Homo sapiens: one gene and its partners. The protein of the gene in region 1 purifies or fractionates together with the protein of each later gene. This does not show direct contact. Each region holds a gene or a part of one and is shown in the gene's direction. Other genes may lie near its edges. The genes, in order: NODAL, TXNDC5 and RSPRY1.

The links.
Region 2: the proteins of NODAL (region 1) and TXNDC5 purify together in Homo sapiens (affinity purification with mass spectrometry; one large-scale study listed by BioGRID and IntAct). This does not show direct contact.
Region 3: the proteins of NODAL (region 1) and RSPRY1 purify together in Homo sapiens (affinity purification with mass spectrometry; one large-scale study listed by BioGRID and IntAct). This does not show direct contact.

The regions. Positions count from the first base shown.
Region 1 is NC_000010.11:70,431,549-70,435,281, reverse strand, and holds the end of NODAL (nodal homolog isoform 1 preproprotein), read left to right. Parts: intron 1-2,193; coding exon 2,194-2,346; 3' UTR 2,347-3,346; downstream 3,347-3,733. UniProt on the Homo sapiens protein: Essential for mesoderm formation and axial patterning during embryonic development.
Region 2 is NC_000006.12:7,883,783-7,886,901, reverse strand, and holds part of TXNDC5 (thioredoxin domain-containing protein 5 isoform 1 precursor), read left to right. Parts: intron 1-858; coding exon 859-941; intron 942-2,413; coding exon 2,414-2,543; intron 2,544-3,119. UniProt on the Homo sapiens protein: Protein disulfide isomerase of the endoplasmic reticulum lumen involved in the formation of disulfide bonds in proteins. Can reduce insulin disulfide bonds.
Region 3 is NC_000016.10:57,213,829-57,217,328, forward strand, and holds part of RSPRY1 (RING finger and SPRY domain-containing protein 1 isoform 1 precursor), read left to right. Parts: intron 1-59; coding exon 60-118; intron 119-2,278; coding exon 2,279-2,345; intron 2,346-3,075; coding exon 3,076-3,207; intron 3,208-3,500.

The DNA.
Region 1 (3,733 bases):
GATGCCAGGCGTGAGGGGGAGGGGAGGCAGTAAGCTGGCCTTGGGGGACAGGGCTCTAGCTTTGCTATTAAATGACTATGTTCCTGTATTCACAGTTACTCAAGCACCTCCAATGTACCAGGATCCTGTGCTAGGTACCAGGCATGTAGAGATGACCGAGTGTAACATCCTTATAGAGCCTGTATGGGGTCATGCGTCACTGGGTAGCCTTGAACACATTGTTTCCCTGGGACTTTATCCTTGTCTTTCATAAAATTAGGGGGTGGGGGTAGACCAGAGGGTCTCAGCACTTCCCTAGCCCTGACATTCTAGGAAAGGAAGAATCTGGACTTTGGGGACAGGCAGGCCTGCATTTGACTCCTCATTAGCTGTGTGATACTGTTTAGGTTGCTTATTCTCTCAAGCTTCAGTTTTTCCACCTGTAAGATGAGGAGGGCAATGCCATATTTCAGAGGGATGCTGTAGGGTTAATGAGATGACATGCACATGGCATGTAAAGCAGTTGGTAGGTAACAGGCATGTTTGGCTGCATTATGGGGCCACGGTTGGAATCACACTGTTCCAGCCACAGTATTTTGGTTGAGAATTGACTACCCATTCTACAGAAGTAGACAAGGCCAGCCAGGTGCGGTGGCACATGCCTGAAATCCCAACACTTTGGGAGGCTGAGGTGGGCGGATCACCTGAGGTCAGGAGTTTGAGACCAGCCTGACCAACATGGTGACACCCCGTCTCTACTAAAAATACAAAAATCAGCCGGGTGTTGTGGCACATGCCTGTAATCCCAGCTACTCGGGAGGCTGAGGCAGGAGAATCACTTGAACCCGGGAGGCAGAGATTGCAGTGAGCCGAGATCATGCCATTGCACTCCAGCCTGGGCAACAGGAGCGAAACTCCATCTCAAAAACAAGAAAAAGTAGACAAAGCCAGAGGCTGCCACTTGGTGCCACTAGTCAGCCTAAGGTCTAGGAGGTGGTGGAGGAAGAACAGAGCTGGTGAGTTAGGAAAGAGAAGAAGATGGAGAGAACAGAAAATATAACCTAATATGGTGGATCTGATGTTATAGGTGGCCCTGCCCTGCTGTCCAAGGTCATATGGGACCAAAATGTTTTCATTTTACTCCATGAAGTCTGGAATGAGAATTTCTTGGACTTGCAATATATCCTCCATGCCAAGCCTCAGGCGGGATTCAGGGTCTCTGGGGAGCATGAGCACATGGGCTGAGGTCATGCAAGGGAGTCCCTGGGGGTACTAGAGCTTCCGAGGATCTGTCCTGAGCCTCACCCAGGCCTGCTGATTTTCATCGCCCACCTGGAGCACCACAAAGACCCAGACAGTCCCAACTGCCAACTCTGACACTCTGATCTAAAAAGACGTTACTAGACCACAGGGACAGGCCCTGGTTCCAAAACGCCAAGGGATTGTTCCTTTCCTCCTATTGACTCTCTCTGTCCTTCTCTGGCTGACAGCAAATCCCATAAGAATTTCCACATGACTAACTATTCTGCTTCATATTTCTAGAACTAAACCAGGAATTTCTTGGAATATTTTAAAAATTGGTATTCACAGCCGGGCACGGTGGCTCACTCATGTAATTCCAGCATTTTGGGAGGCTGAGGTGGGTGGATCGCTTGAGCCCAGGAGGTCAAGACCAGCCTGGGCAACATGCCGAAACCCTATTTCTACAAAAAATACAAAAATTAGCCAGGCATGGTGGCATGTACCTGTAGTCCCAGCTACTCAGGAGGCTGAGGTGGGAGGATCACCTGAGCCCAGGAGGTTGAGGATGCAGTGAGCTGTGATCACACCACTGCACTCCAGCCTGGGCAACAGAGCAAGACCATCTCAAAAAAGAAAAAAAAAATGGTATTCCCTTTAGACTAGAATAATAGGAGAACATAAAAATTAGCTACCACTTAAAAAAAAAAATAGCTACTACTCTACCCAGATACATGTAATTTTTTGAATCTGTTTAAAGGCTGTTTTCACAAAACAAGCACAGAGCTAAAGGTAGTTTAGACATTAGAGTTCATGATATATTGGCAAGCTAATTCCTTTATGAAAATAATTTTCTGCTATTTTTGCACTCAGGAACTGACTTTAACTCCGTAACTTTTTTACTCTTTACCCAGAAATACTATTCTGACCTGCCCATCAGGATGTGAATTGACACACCCTTCCTTTCCTTTACAGAGTCTGCTGAAACGTTACCAGCCCCACCGAGTCCCTTCCACTTGTTGTGCCCCAGTGAAGACCAAGCCGCTGAGCATGCTGTATGTGGATAATGGCAGAGTGCTCCTAGATCACCATAAAGACATGATCGTGGAAGAATGTGGGTGCCTCTGATGACATCCTGGAGGGAGACTGGATTTGCCTGCACTCTGGAAGGCTGGGAAACTCCTGGAAGACATGATAACCATCTAATCCAGTAAGGAGAAACAGAGAGGGGCAAAGTTGCTCTGCCCACCAGAACTGAAGAGGAGGGGCTGCCCACTCTGTAAATGAAGGGCTCAGTGGAGTCTGGCCAAGCACAGAGGCTGCTGTCAGGAAGAGGGAGGAAGAAGCCTGTGCAGGGGGCTGGCTGGATGTTCTCTTTACTGAAAAGACAGTGGCAAGGAAAAGCACAAGTGCATGAGTTCTTTACTGGATTTTTTAAAAACCTGTGAACCCCCCGAAACTGTATGTGAAAGTTGAGACATATGTGCATGTATTTTGGAGGTGGGATGAAGTCACCTATAGCTTTCATGTATTCTCCAAAGTAGTCTGTGTGTGACCTGTCCCCCTCCCCAAAGATTAAGGATCACTGTATAGATTAAAAAGAGTCCGTCAATCTCATTGCCTCAGGCTGGGTTGGGGGAGCCCCACAGCTTTCTGGCTGGCCAGTGGCAATCTACTGGCCTTGTCCAGAGGCTCACTGGAGTGGTTCTCTGCTAATGAGCTGTACAACAATAAAGCCATTGTCTAGTTCTCCTGGGCCAGCTGGTGCCTGTGAAGGCAGAGGCAGGAACTCATCCAAGAGGACCGGCCATGTTGGGTTACAGAAGACATCCCTGCGTCAGTCTGCTTCGGCAGACACAGCCTGAGTTTGTTAAAGTTGGTGACAATCCACCTCAGTCTCTCAATGTGTGCTATTAATGAGGCCTCTGAGCTTCCTATCCAGCAGTGGTGAAGGCCTTGCCCTGGGTGGCAAGATACTTGCTCTATGGTCACAGCTCAGCCACTGGAAGCTGTGCGACCTCAGGTGAGCAATTCACTGTCCAGTCTCCACTTGTAAAAGGAACGCTGGTGAATCCTAATGCATTCATATTAAATGTCTGTTGTCAGGCTCAGAAGAGCCATGAGCTTTAAGCTGTAGACTGAATAGGAAGAGCTACCTTATCCCTACCTCCCTCTAAAGCTTATAAAGCTTGCTAAACCCAGTCCCTGCCACATGCCCTTAATCTAACCTTTATCGGCTCTTTTGTTACTCAGGGTTCTAAGACAGACTTAATTTCAGGTTCCACATGGGAAGCACAGCAAAAGGAGCCTGAGTGAGGCAGCTCTATCCCCAAAAACCCCTGACCACAGTTATCTTCCAGGTAAAAAGACCTCAAAGGCAGCAATTCTGGCTGGGTGCAGTGGCTCATGCCTGTAATCCCAGCACTTTGGGAGGCTGAGATGGGAAGATCACTTGAGTCCAGTAGTTCAAGACCAGCCTGGGCAACATAGTGAGAACCTGTCTCTGTTTAAATAA
Region 2 (3,119 bases), on another chromosome or scaffold:
GTTTCTGGACATAAAGATGGTAGTGTTCCACAGTGGCCCCCTTGGCCTCCGTCACTGACATGTTACTCGATGCCAGACTCAAATGGAGCAGCCCTGGTACACTTAGCCACGTGATAAATCATCCCATTCCTGCTCTCAGGAGAGAATCGCAGATCCATTTTTGGAGAAACACATAGACGTCATTCTGTAAAGAACTGTCAAGGGAGAATGGCTTTAAAGCAGACTACCATGTAGCACCTTTCCCTTAAATTCTCCAGCCAGAGCTTCCATCAGCGTTTTTCACATTGACTTAGAACAGGCTGCTTTCCATTTTTATGTTCAATGTAAAACAGGTATCATTGCCTTTGCTATTGTAACTAGGTTCTTTCTGTTGCATAGAGAGGATGTCACAAAGGGTGCTAGGAGAATAGGGTGGCCAGTGAGAAAAGCGGCTGAGGATGAGACTTCAGTGGGTATCCTGGAGACTCCAGGCTTAGAGGTGCAGACTCAAGTGTCAGACACCCAGGGCTGCCTGGTCCACACCACAGCGCCCTGGAGAGTTTTCAACCTGCCTCATCCCCAAAAGACAGTCCCCCTCCCCACCTTCATCCCCTGTACAGTGTCCAGCCACCTCCTCACCACATCTCCCAGGCTTGGGACCCAGGGACTTGCATTGATCTCTCTGCCCTTCAGAGGCTGCCAGCCTCCCTTTGTGTGTAGCCTATGAAATGCAGATTGTGTAGGTATTTCTGTGTGACCTTGGAGCCTACGTAACTGCATTTTTAAAAAATTACTGATTCGTGTATCTGCAATCCCAAAGCATGGCCCTGCTCAACTTTAAGGGATGTACTTGAACTGTGGCTTTTTCCTCCCTTGAAGGGCACTGTGTTGGCACTCACTGAAAATAACTTCGATGACACCATTGCAGAAGGAATAACCTTCATCAAGTTTTATGCTCCATGGTAAGTGGCTGTTTAATTAGAAACTACTTTGTCCATGTGTACTAAGTCACATCATGTTTTTCAGCTCATCTGCCACCCCTCCAGACTCAATGTTGGGCACATGTTACATTTATATGTAGGTCATGTTGTAGGAAATAAGGAACCGTTATCATGCTCCTATATTCAAATATTTTAAACTTCAATGGCCTTAATTATATATGGAGAATGAGGCTACAGTTATATCAACTTTGATTATATATGGAGAATGAGGCTAAAGTTATATCAACTTTGGAGAAAACATAAAAATGGAGGCAAATTATGATGGCCATATTCAGTTTTGTGGTATCTGCACTTTTCCAAATAGATGGCTTTTCTTTTTGGCTAAACAATGAGTGTCATGATGTAGCTTTGCTCCTCGGTTCTTTTAAGTACTCGGATTTCTTTTGTAGAGAAATCCAGTAGAGTCTGTTAGAGCCATTCAGTATGCTACGCAGTTTCCTGAACCTGCATGCCACGTGGTCTTGGAGACCAGAGCAGAAATGGATTGCAGGTAGTGTGAGATCCAGACAACCTTGGTTCTAAGACTTACCGTGAATGACTGTATAGTAAACTTGGATGTCCTTTAATTCCTTTGAACCCCAGTTCCCTCAGCTGAAAAATGGGAGTAACTTTTTGTCTTCACAAATAAAACAATCCATTTGGAAAAGCAGAGTGTTAGGACAACAGTAGATTGTTTATCTAAACATGATAAAGGCGTCACTTTTCTTGTTTGTTACACTCCACATGTTCCTGAGAAACTAACCATAGGGGTAAAAAGTTAATAAGCACAGGACTTGAACGAACCATAGCAATGCCTTTCAAATCATTTGCAACATTTAAAAACCTAAAGCTCCACAGATCAAGTATCAAAAAGGAGGATCCCCTTTGGCTGAAGGGGAGCCATCCATACGGCAGGAGGGGGTCAGAAGAGACAAGGGAACAGAGTCGGGTAGAAGGGAGGGTTTGAACCAAACTTAATCATGGCCTTGATGCTCACCCCACATCGCTGAAGTACCAAGGAGGCCTTAAAATGGTTTTGAAATTGTGAGACCATAAGCAATCAAATCTAAAATGTCTTTGGCATTCAAGTGACCTTTTAGAAATTGTGTGGCATCTGCCCTGTTCCCTGTTCCTCTGCTCCTGTGCTTTCATAAACCAGTTAGCACAGTTCACCATGGCATGGAAATGGTCTCAGAATCTCAACTTGTTTTGAGACTGGCTTGCTTCTGTCACATTATCTGAAAGTCTACCTTGGATCAACTTTTGGGTTCTTCATTTGGGATAGGAGGAGGAAGAGTTAATGTGCACCCAGTGGGAGAATTTGGTATTTTACAAATTTCTAGGCAATTGTTGACTGTCCCATACAGAAGAAACAGAGCTTGTCTTGGCAGCAGAGTGTAGGTGAATGATCTCGACCCAGGATTTCAACGAAGCTGCCATTTTTCTCGTCTTAGGTGTGGTCATTGTAAGACTCTGGCTCCTACTTGGGAGGAACTCTCTAAAAAGGAATTCCCTGGTCTGGCGGGGGTCAAGATCGCCGAAGTAGACTGCACTGCTGAACGGAATATCTGCAGCAAGTATTCGGTGGGTACTTGGATGGATGCTTATGGGAGCTCTCAGTATGGGGGCAGATCCCAAGGGAACTGTGCCTCAACCACGATAACTCACTCTGCTCTCATCTTCTCAACAATGTGGTTTTTATGTCCCTTTGAGTTGTTTGTTTGGAGAAGCAAAAGAGATCCTCTCTCAAAGGGAAGGCATTCTTCTTCGCCCGCTTTGTAGTTAGTATCCATGTTTCAGTGCAGGTTTTCAGGCCTTGCTGTCTGAGTAACAAGGCCGTGAAGTAACAGACCCCACGCCATAGACTGTGGGGCTTCCCACACCGCGACTCTTGATGATTGACCAGTGGTCTGTAGCCTTTGCCATAAATACCCGAGTCGCTCATTTTTCACACATAAGCCAGCATTATAAAATGCAGTGGCTGAATCTAAGAATCATTTCAACATAACCTCCTTTCTGAAAGGGCCATGCCAGCAAGTCGGTCCTGTGCTTGGGTTAACTACTGCCTTCATTCCAAGCTGTTAGCACAGTCTGATGGCCTGGAAGATTTGTCATTTTTTTTCTTCTTTGTTATTCAGACACTTTTGGAGCCCTTTAGAT
Region 3 (3,500 bases), on another chromosome or scaffold:
CAGTGATTTAAAATAATCTGGCATTTTAATTATATCAAGTGTTTGTTGTATTTGTCTAGGTCCTGCAAGTATAGGTTTACTTAGCCCAGGAATACTGGAATACTTGCTACAGTGTCTGGTAAGTGAGACATCAAAACTATTTATTCTTAGTCATCTAGAAGTGGGCATCATCTAGAACTGTGCATTTTCTCAAATTGCTGGCATAGCCACTGGCACAGAGAATGGAATCAATTGTAAATTTTATTTGCAGGTGTTTCCCGAGTGCTTATTTATTCCCTCCTATGTTTAAAAAAGAGAGTGGGATTGGAATTTATCCCAACCAGCAAAAACAGCTGAGTTAGTCTGGTTTTAAATTTAGTCATAAGATAGCTGCTATGATTGGCTCTTTTGCATGTTCCTTGAGTTTGCCAAATGGTAATAGGGACCTCCACAGTAGAAACAATTACATGGCGTTCCAAGCCAGGAGGCCATCAAGTCAGATTCCCAGTATATATAAATCTCTACTCCTCCCTGCCCTCCCCCTCACTGCTACTCTTAAAACTGTTGTCACTGGAATATTTAATATATTGTCTATGAAGCTTCTGGTTTGCTGAGGCTGTGCCCTCAGATCTCTCATAGTTCTGGCCTGTGGTCTTGAATGGTCTGTATTTTTAAAAGTTATTTTTGTAGGCCTAGTGAGCATTGGCCCTTTTCAAAACTCTGGTCTGAAAACCCTTATTTGTCAATACCCACTGATACGTGCTTAAAACACTTACCTTACTCTCAATGAGCACTCTGGGGATACAACATGGCAGTCCTATGATTTCAAGAGGTTTATTGGTTAGTTGAGGAAACAAAACTACTCAGACAAGGTAATTAGCCTCCATTTTATCACAGGATGTGATCATGGGAGAAAGTACTTCATCAAGACTAAATGAGGGCCGGGCACGGTGGCTCATGCCTATAAGCCCGGCATTTTGGGAGGCTGAGGTGGGCTGGTCACCTGAGGTCAGGAGTTCAAGACCAGCCTGGCCAACATGGCGAAACCTGGTCCCTACTAAAAATACAAAAATTAGCTGGGCATGGTGGCATGTGTGTGTAGTCCCAGCTACTCAGGAGGCTGAGGCAGGAATTCACTTGAACCCAGAAGGCAGAGATTACAGTTAGCTGAGATCTCACCACTGCCCTCCAGCCTGGGCGACAGAGCGAGACTCCATCTCAAAAAAAAAAAAAGACTAAATGAGAAGGTGGGTGGTATGGGTAATGAGAGCCGGGGTGTCATGAAAGTCAGACTTCCTGATGAAGGTGGACCCTCAGCTGGGTCATGCTATAGATGAGGATTTTATTGTGCCCAGAGGAGGGAAAAAATTGGTTTCTTAGCTAAGGGAACATCACAGGCAGAAGTCCAGAGACAGAGAATTGTCTGATGAGAGAAGACAGTGTTCAGAGATAGGACACAGACTGAGTAGCCAGCTAGAAAGGGTTTAGGGCCTGAAAAGCCAGGCAGAGGGATTTAGATGGATATGAGAAGAAATAGAATGCTGAATAGGCTTTCCAGCAGCAGGGATGGTGGTTATGTGAGGTTTCCAGAACTTAGGAGGTACCAGGGAAGTCAGTGGGAATCATCTGATGTTCTGGAGCTCCTCTGGTGGCTCCCAATGTAGCAGTAGGGAAAGCACAGCTATGAGAAGGTGTCATGTTCAACAGATAGACCTTTCCTTAAAGGGGAACTCATGTGACATGAGCTTAAATGTAACTAAAAGAGTTCACTTGTTGCTTTCTCCTGTCTACCATCAGCATTTGTAGAATTCCTTTCAGGGAACAGCTTAAAAACTGAGCCATTAATTGTTAATTTAATTATTTATAATTTTGCAACTTGTTAGTGATAAGTGGTTCTTTTTAGGATTCTAAGTAAAATATCATTTTTAGTTTATAATTCTAGGTTTCTGTTTGGCTTGCATAAATGAATGTGAGAATGAATATTTTATTTAACAAAGCCCTAATGTAAGTTTTATTAAGTAAAATAACATAGTGTATTTAACAGGATACTTTTGAAATTTCCAAATCTATAAATTAACCTAGTGACTTTAAGAAAAAAATACAAGATTAAGAGAGCCTGTCCAGTTCATTACTAACATTATTAGCCAAATGGATAATTGAGAACTTGAATGAATGAAACTTTTCTGACCACTCGAAAAAACATCTAGCACATATTGGGCAAGGAAATGAAACTGATAACTTGCCACCTCTGCAGGGGAATGATTTTTTTTTTTTTTTTTTATCTTTTGTTGTTTTTCAGAAGTTACAGTCCCACCCCACAGTCATGCTTTTTGCACTTATCGCACTGGAAAAGTTTGCACAGACAAGTAGGTATAGTGACTTCTTGCACTAATGATCTTCTGTATTGGTTGTTAAAAATTTTATTTTTCTTAGTTACTGGATAAGCCTACACTTTGAACCCCATCAGATGGGCATACATTCTGTTTTCATCTGGATAGACACGTTAAAGCCAATGAAGTATAACAGGGACAAAGGCAAGGATTTTCTCACCTAAGAATCAAAACTTGGTAACCATGTTTACTCACTTTTTATAGCCAAAAATTTAGTGATGTGATTGCTAGTTTCTAGAAAAAAGTATGGTGGCTCTTGCCCATAATCCCAGCACTTTGGGAAGCTAAGGCCAGAGCATTGCTTCAGGCCAGGAATTCGAGACCAGGGTGGGCAGCATAGCAAGACTCAATCTCTACAAAAAATTTTAAAAAATCAGCCAGGCATGGTGGCATGCACCTATGTTCCTAGCTACTTGGGATGCTGAGGCGGGGGGATCACTTGAGCCCAGTAGTTCAAGGTTACAGTGATCCATAGTTGTGCCACTGCACTCCAGCCTAGGCAACAGAGTGAGACCCTGTGACTAAAAAAAAGGAAAACAAAATAGTCAAAGCTCTTTGGCTATGTTTTCCCTAGAAATTTTAATTGAAGTCTAATCTAGTCTCCAATTCTTTAATTGCCTCTTCCCCCTCCTTAGCAATACTAATTTGCTGAGCAAATCATTCTACCCTTTCATTGTTAATTCAAGGATTATGTCTTTCCAAACAGGTGAAAATAAATTGACTATTTCTGAATCCAGTATTAGTGACCGGCTTGTCACATTGGAGTCCTGGGCTAATGATCCTGATTATCTGAAACGTCAAGTTGGTTTCTGTGCCCAGTGGAGCTTAGACAATCTCTGTAAGTGGGAGTTGTCCTTTATTAAAATGTCCGTTTCCATTTCCAGACTCATTTCTTTCATAGGCTCACTGGTCTTCCTTTTGCAATGGTAAGTATGAGTCCTCATAAGGACCTCTACTGGCAGGTTGGATATATTCTAGCAGAAAAGTATCCTAGAGACCCTTTAGACAAGAATTACATGGTATGCTTCTAATTTCAGCATTTTCCTGTTCAAAAACCTTTACTGGCACCCAGTTTCCTGCTGCATCAAAGCCCTTAATTATATGGCACTGTCTAACCAGCTCTTTCCAACA